Regions from separate parts of the Homo sapiens genome. Here region 1 is linked to region 2. The links come from fine-mapping of genetic effects on plasma protein levels. A gene starts in region 2. The other region holds a variant in brackets. All regions are shown on one strand. Distances are from middle to middle.

Region 1 (3,024 bases), 25 kb after region 2:
CTGTGTGTATTTGTGCGTCTGACTTGCTTGTGTAAATGTCTGTGTCCCCATGCGACTGTAGGGCTGAGTGTGTGTTTCAGGGTGTATCCGTGAACATGTCTATATGGATGTTGCTGAGCCTGTGAGAGTATGTTTGGGATCAGGTGAGCTTGGACTGCCTGTGTTTGTGTGCGTGTTTGTGGGTGTGCACGTGTGCCACATGCCGCTGAGTGAGACCCAGGGCCTAGCCTGGAACCTGGGGTACAGAGGCGAGGCCGCCTCTCTGGGTGAGGTGCGTTCCCTGCACCCGTCCCGGGAGTCTGCCTTCTAGACCCTAGCATGTGCACCTGTCCTGGGAGTCGGCCTTCTAGACCCCAGCGTGTGTCCCTCCTGCAGCAGAGGCGTGCAGCACCACGGAGGATGGGGCCGAACCCCTGCTCTGTCCCTCGGGCTATGAGTGCCACATCCTGAGCCCAGGTGACGTGGCCGAAGGTATCCCCAACCGTGGGCAGTGCGTCAAGCAGCGCCGGCAAGCAGGTGAGTGTGGCACCCCAGCCCTGATCCTGGCTCCTGCCCCAGTCCCCTTCTCCCTGTAAGCGCCTCTCACCCGCATGGACGACCTGCCCCAGGAAGCAGCCCCAGCACCTGGGCCTGACTGAGAGCTCCTCACATCTTCCCCCTGCCCGGCTCCTTCTTTCATGGCCCCTACCCTTTCCCTGTCACACTAGCATGTGACCGAAGCTCTTGAGCCAGCAGACTGGCTGCAAACCCCAGCTCTGCACCTCCCAGCTGGGCGACACTGGGGTTAATTTCTTCCTATCTCTGAGCCTCAGTTTCCTCATCTGTAAAATGGGGCTACTACATGCTGTTGTGGGGCGTGACTGAAATCATAAGTGCAGAGCAGTCGGAGCAGCCCTAAGGAATAGTAGGTGGTCAGTAAGCACTGGATGTTTTATATCCACGTATGTGTAGATGGACCCCGACTTACGATGGTCAACTTAAGATTGTTAGACTTTACGCTGGTGCAGAAGCAACATGCATTCTGTAGAAACTGTACTTCAAGTTCCCATCCAACCATTCTGTTTTTCACTTTCAGTATGGTAATCAAATTACACGACACATTCAATATTTTATTATAAAATAGGCTTTGTGTTAGATGACTTTGCCCAACTCTAGGCTAATGTAAGTGTTCTGAGCACAGTTAAGGTAGGCTCGGCTAAGGTATGGTGTTCAGTAGGTTAACTGTGTTCAGTGCATTTTGACTTAAGATATTCTCAGCTTGTAGGGGGTATATCAGTACATAACTCCATTGTAAGTCAAGAAGCATCTGTATCTGTTTTCAAACTGCATTGAATTAGAATTGTCTGAGAATCCTTAACTTCCAGAACTTCTGCCAGGACTGTTCAGTTTGACTTAATTTGTGTTCGTCTTTGGACACAAAGGCAATAAATAGATGAGTGAATTGTGTTGCTCTCA[T/C]TGGCATAATTTTCCCAAGAAAAGAAAGAACAATGGCACAGCGATTCCTGGTGGTATCTAAAACCATCTCGAACCCCACTCAAGGCAATCAAGTTGAAAGACTTCAATGTGCTTTTTGGCATGGAGTTTGGATGAACTGTGTGGTGAGCCAGGAATCTGGGACTTCAGGGTGGCCAGGTTCACCTTGTCAAAGTCAGTGTCAGTCAGACTGAGACCACACCCAGGGGCCCCTGTCCCCGCTTCGGCATCTCATAGCCCTAATAGCTAAGGACAGGACCCTCAGACAAGATTGGTGATAATTACAGTGACCCTATTTGCCGAAAGTATACTGGGGAGTGCATGATCTGCCAAAACCTCTTTTTTTTTCTGATTTGAGAATGTTTTTCTCTGAAGTGTTTCAAGAAAGGCATAGACGTAAAATCAGTCATGCATTTAATGTCATTATCATTGCAGATAAAGTGATGCAAATCCCGGAATCCTGAACTTTGAAGAAATTATCTACAAAAGGCTTTGAAACAAAGAGATGCCTTTTTGGTTTCCTCTACATTCCACTTGCTATTTGCAGGGCTTTGTTTGGGGTTATAGGGTGGCTTCTCCAGCCAGATAGCCTGGGCTGCCACAGCTACTCAGCCCCTTACTGCTGTGGGCAGCAAATAACATAACCTTTTCAGGCCTCATTTGCCTTTTCTGTAAAATGGGTTCATAATACTTGAGGTACTTCACAGGGCTCTTTGAGGAGTGAGTTAATCTGTGTAGAGTGTCCATCAATTCACAAGCACAGTAAACAACCTTCACTGTTTTATCACTGCTTGTCTCTAGACACTCAATCCTGCCGTGGGTGGGTGGGGTGTATGGTCCTTTGGAGGTAAAACCGCAAGGGCCTGCCAGCCACTGTGAGGCTGCTGGAGTGTGGAAGGGATAGCCTTTTCCAAAAGAGAGCTGTGGGGCGAGTTGTGAGTTCGTTGGGCTATGCCACCATTTATAATAATGACGGCATAATAGGAATGCCTTGGGCACTTGTCTTTTTCATCCCCTGATCTTTTCATTCAGCCCTATGATGTCTAAGACCAAGGTCAAACCAAGTCAAACTAGTTCTTAAGGGTTCAAACCAGTTAAAAAAATTCCCATTTCAAGACAGAGCTAAGCAAAGAGGGTCAGTCATTCAGTGGTGACCACACCAGTGATGCCTACTGTTAACATGCACCTTTGGAGTGCTCTCTTTAAATTAAGCTTTGCTGCAAGCCTGCAAAAGGAGAAGTAGAACCAGGAGGCAGTGCTGCATAGGTTTCAGAGTGCAGGCTCAGAACCACAGAAAGAAGTCCAAAGCCTGTAACTTTCTTCCTCCGTGGCCTTGAGCAGGTCACCCAACCTCTCTTAGCCTCAGTTCCTTGATCTGTAAAATAGAGATGGCGATGGTAACCATAGTGACTACTTCATGGGGTAGTTATGGGGCTTGAGTGAGAGAAACACGTATGAAGTGCTTAGAATAGCACCTGGCCCACTGTAGGTCCTCAGTGAATGTGTGCCACCATCATCCCTGTCTTCGTAAAGGGAGGATATGAGTTCAGG
Region 2 (2,500 bases):
ATACCAGCACTTTGGGAGGCTGAGGCGGGCAGATCACTTAAGGTCAGGAGTTTGAGACCAGCCTGGCCAGCATGGTGAAACCCAGTCTCCACTAAAAATACAAAAATTAGCCAGGCATGGTGGCACATGCCTGTTATCCCAGCTACTTGGAAGGCCGAGACAGGAGAATCGCTTGAACCCGGGAGGCAGAGGTTGTAGTGATCTGTGATCACACCACTGCACTCCAGCGTGGGTGACAGAGCAAGACCCGTCTCGAAAAACAAAACAAAACAAAAAACCAGTATCTGTCTTGGAAGTGCTGAGAACAGACAAGGGAATATGAAGTTTGTGAAATGTTGAGCCCGCTGTGCTACATTCCTGTAAAACACACACGTGCACATGCACACCCACGTGCACACACGCATACACATAAATGCACATGTGCAGATACACCGGCTGACAGTGACAGCACACTTATGTGTGTGAAATGCTTTATGTGCTCAATTTCTTTTAAATCTCACAGGAAACACACGCTATGAGGAACTACCCACATGCCCACATCAGGCAGGAGGACCCCGGCGGGTGCAAGGGTGGAAGTCGTCTCTTCATGGCTGCACCCTTGGCCAGTGCCAGTCCAGCAGCCTCTTTCAAAGAAGCTTTTATAGGCAGATAGTTTGTCAGCCCAGCTCGAAATGTGAACAAGGTAGCAGCCGAGCCCCCACCCATCCGGCTGCACTCCCCTGCATGTCCAGCCCCGAGCCCTGTGTCAAGCACACCTCCTTGGGAGGAGACCGCCCCAGCCTGCAAGGAAGTGCTCATTATGGAGAGTGGAGAGTGACAGGCCACTCCCGGCCACGTCTCCAAGCAAGCCGGTGCCCCCTCCTCCTGCTGCCACCGCCCACTGAGCTGCCTGGGCTGCAGACGCCCTGGTTGGAGCGTCTGGGGCCAGATGTTATAGGGCAAGCTAAAAATAACCGGGCAGGCCAGCCACCATCGAGGAAGGGGCATGTGCTGGACGCGGACACATGATCCGAGGGACCCTGCTGGGTGGAACTAAGAAAGTCCAGCAGACTGTGCACGCTCCTGTCCCCACTCACAGGCCCACGCAGCGAGGGGGGCCCCTCTTCTGTGTGCGTCTGGAAGGTCGCTGCCCAGGGAGGAAATGCCTTTAACCGGCGTGGGGCCGGGCAGCTGCAGGAGGCAGATCATCCGGGCTCTGTGCCTCTTGCTACTTCTCCTCCACGCCGGCTCTGCCAAGAATATCTGGAAACGGGCATTGCCTGCGAGGCTGGCCGAGAAATCCCGTGTAAGTGCCTGGGATGGGGAGGCTGGGGCAGCCTGTGTGGGTGGGAGTCAGCCTTGAGGAGAGGCGATCCCTAGACACTGCCTTCTCCTGTAAGTGCTCCCCCAAAACGTGGCAAGGCAGGCGTCTTCCTATCCGTGTGTGTCTGAGTTGTGTGGTGGGCAGATGGGGCTCACCCCCAAAAAAGGACCCTTATCTGTGAATCAAGAGGCAAAAGACACATCACAAATGTGCCAAAGAATCGTGCCTTACTTTTGCCTTGTTACAAAAGTATGCTTGCTCCTGAAAGACAGCATCTCATTTCGGAACCCCAGGATTTAAACGGAGCATTCCGTCTCCCTGATCAGTACCAAATGTTTGTGAAATACACTTATGCATTCATGTGGTTGTTTATTCATTCAGCAAACAGAATGAATACACTCTGTTAAACAGAATTTAGCAGAAACCGCTCTGGGGAAGGCACTCTGTGGGGTCCTGTGGATACAAGATAAAGGAGGTACCAGCCCCCATCCTCAAGGGTGGCGTGGCCGAGGTGCAGAGGCAGTTGGGTGACAAACGATGGCAGTACAAAGAGAAGGCATGAGGCAGTGAGTGGCAAGAAACACATGCCCTGGGGCCAGATGTCTGGGTGTGAATCGGGCTCTGCTGCTCATTAGCTGCGTGGCTTCTCTCAGGCAAGCTGCTTGACGTCTCTGAACCCCAGCAATCTCATCTGCAAAAGACAGAGGGATGCATTTCTTCACACAACTATGTCTGGGTCGCCACTGTTTACCAGGTACTGTCCTAGGCTGTGGGGATACAGGCCTCACATCTCTGCCTGGGGAACTCAATGGGGGGCTGGGGGCAGCAAAGAATAAATGAGAGAGATCTCATTTATTAGTATGTGCAGATTGCAAGTGCTGAGGAAGCAATAAAGCAGGAAGGGAACTAGGAGAGAGAATGGGGTGGAGGAGGCTATCATTTTTGGTTCCTCCCACCCCCCAGAGATCACAGATCCGCAGGGACGGAGTGAGCCAGGACGATATCAGCACACAGAGGGCTCAAGAAGGTAATGCTGGCACCCACAGCACCTGTGTGAGGATTGAATGTCTCAGTATGTAGAACGTCTTTGCAACATAGCAAGCTGGCAGTGCATCTTGGCAGCTTTCAATCAAATAATTGTGACTTTGTTTGGTGTTGCCTAACAGGGTAGCATGTAGGTTCCTTGGGGTAGGGCAG

Which allele goes with the higher level. Alleles are on the strand shown, and positions count from the first base shown. The strength of an association depends on the size of the effect and on how common the allele is.
In carriers of allele T in region 1, the plasma level of the protein whose gene starts at base 1,048 in region 2 tends to be higher than with C alone (weak association).

Evidence for each region. PIP is the posterior inclusion probability: the model's chance that the variant is causal. The UK Biobank Pharma Proteomics Project read protein levels with antibody pairs (Olink). The fine-mapping took linkage between variants from a reference panel, not from the people measured, so its PIPs are less certain.
Region 1: its variant is fine-mapped to the plasma level of the WFDC1 protein (UK Biobank, PIP above 0.99).

The regions. Positions count from the first base shown.
Region 1 is chr16:84,319,056-84,322,079 of GRCh38, forward strand. It overlaps WFDC1 (WAP four-disulfide core domain 1), which reads left to right. Exons shown (of 7, transcript NM_021197.4): 4 at 376-516. Among named protein-coding and RNA genes, the nearest start is that of WFDC1, 26 kb to the left of the region's middle. RefSeq lists an enhancer at 410-931. The variant T/C (reference allele first, on the strand shown) is at 1,456.
Region 2 is chr16:84,293,831-84,296,330 of GRCh38, forward strand. WFDC1 (WAP four-disulfide core domain 1) reads left to right here and starts at 1,048. Exons shown (of 7, transcript NM_021197.4): 1 at 1,048-1,285. The coding sequence starts at 1,142. LOC124903734 reads left to right here. Exons shown (of 6, transcript XM_047435022.1): 6 at 503-1,008. The coding sequence ends at 1,008.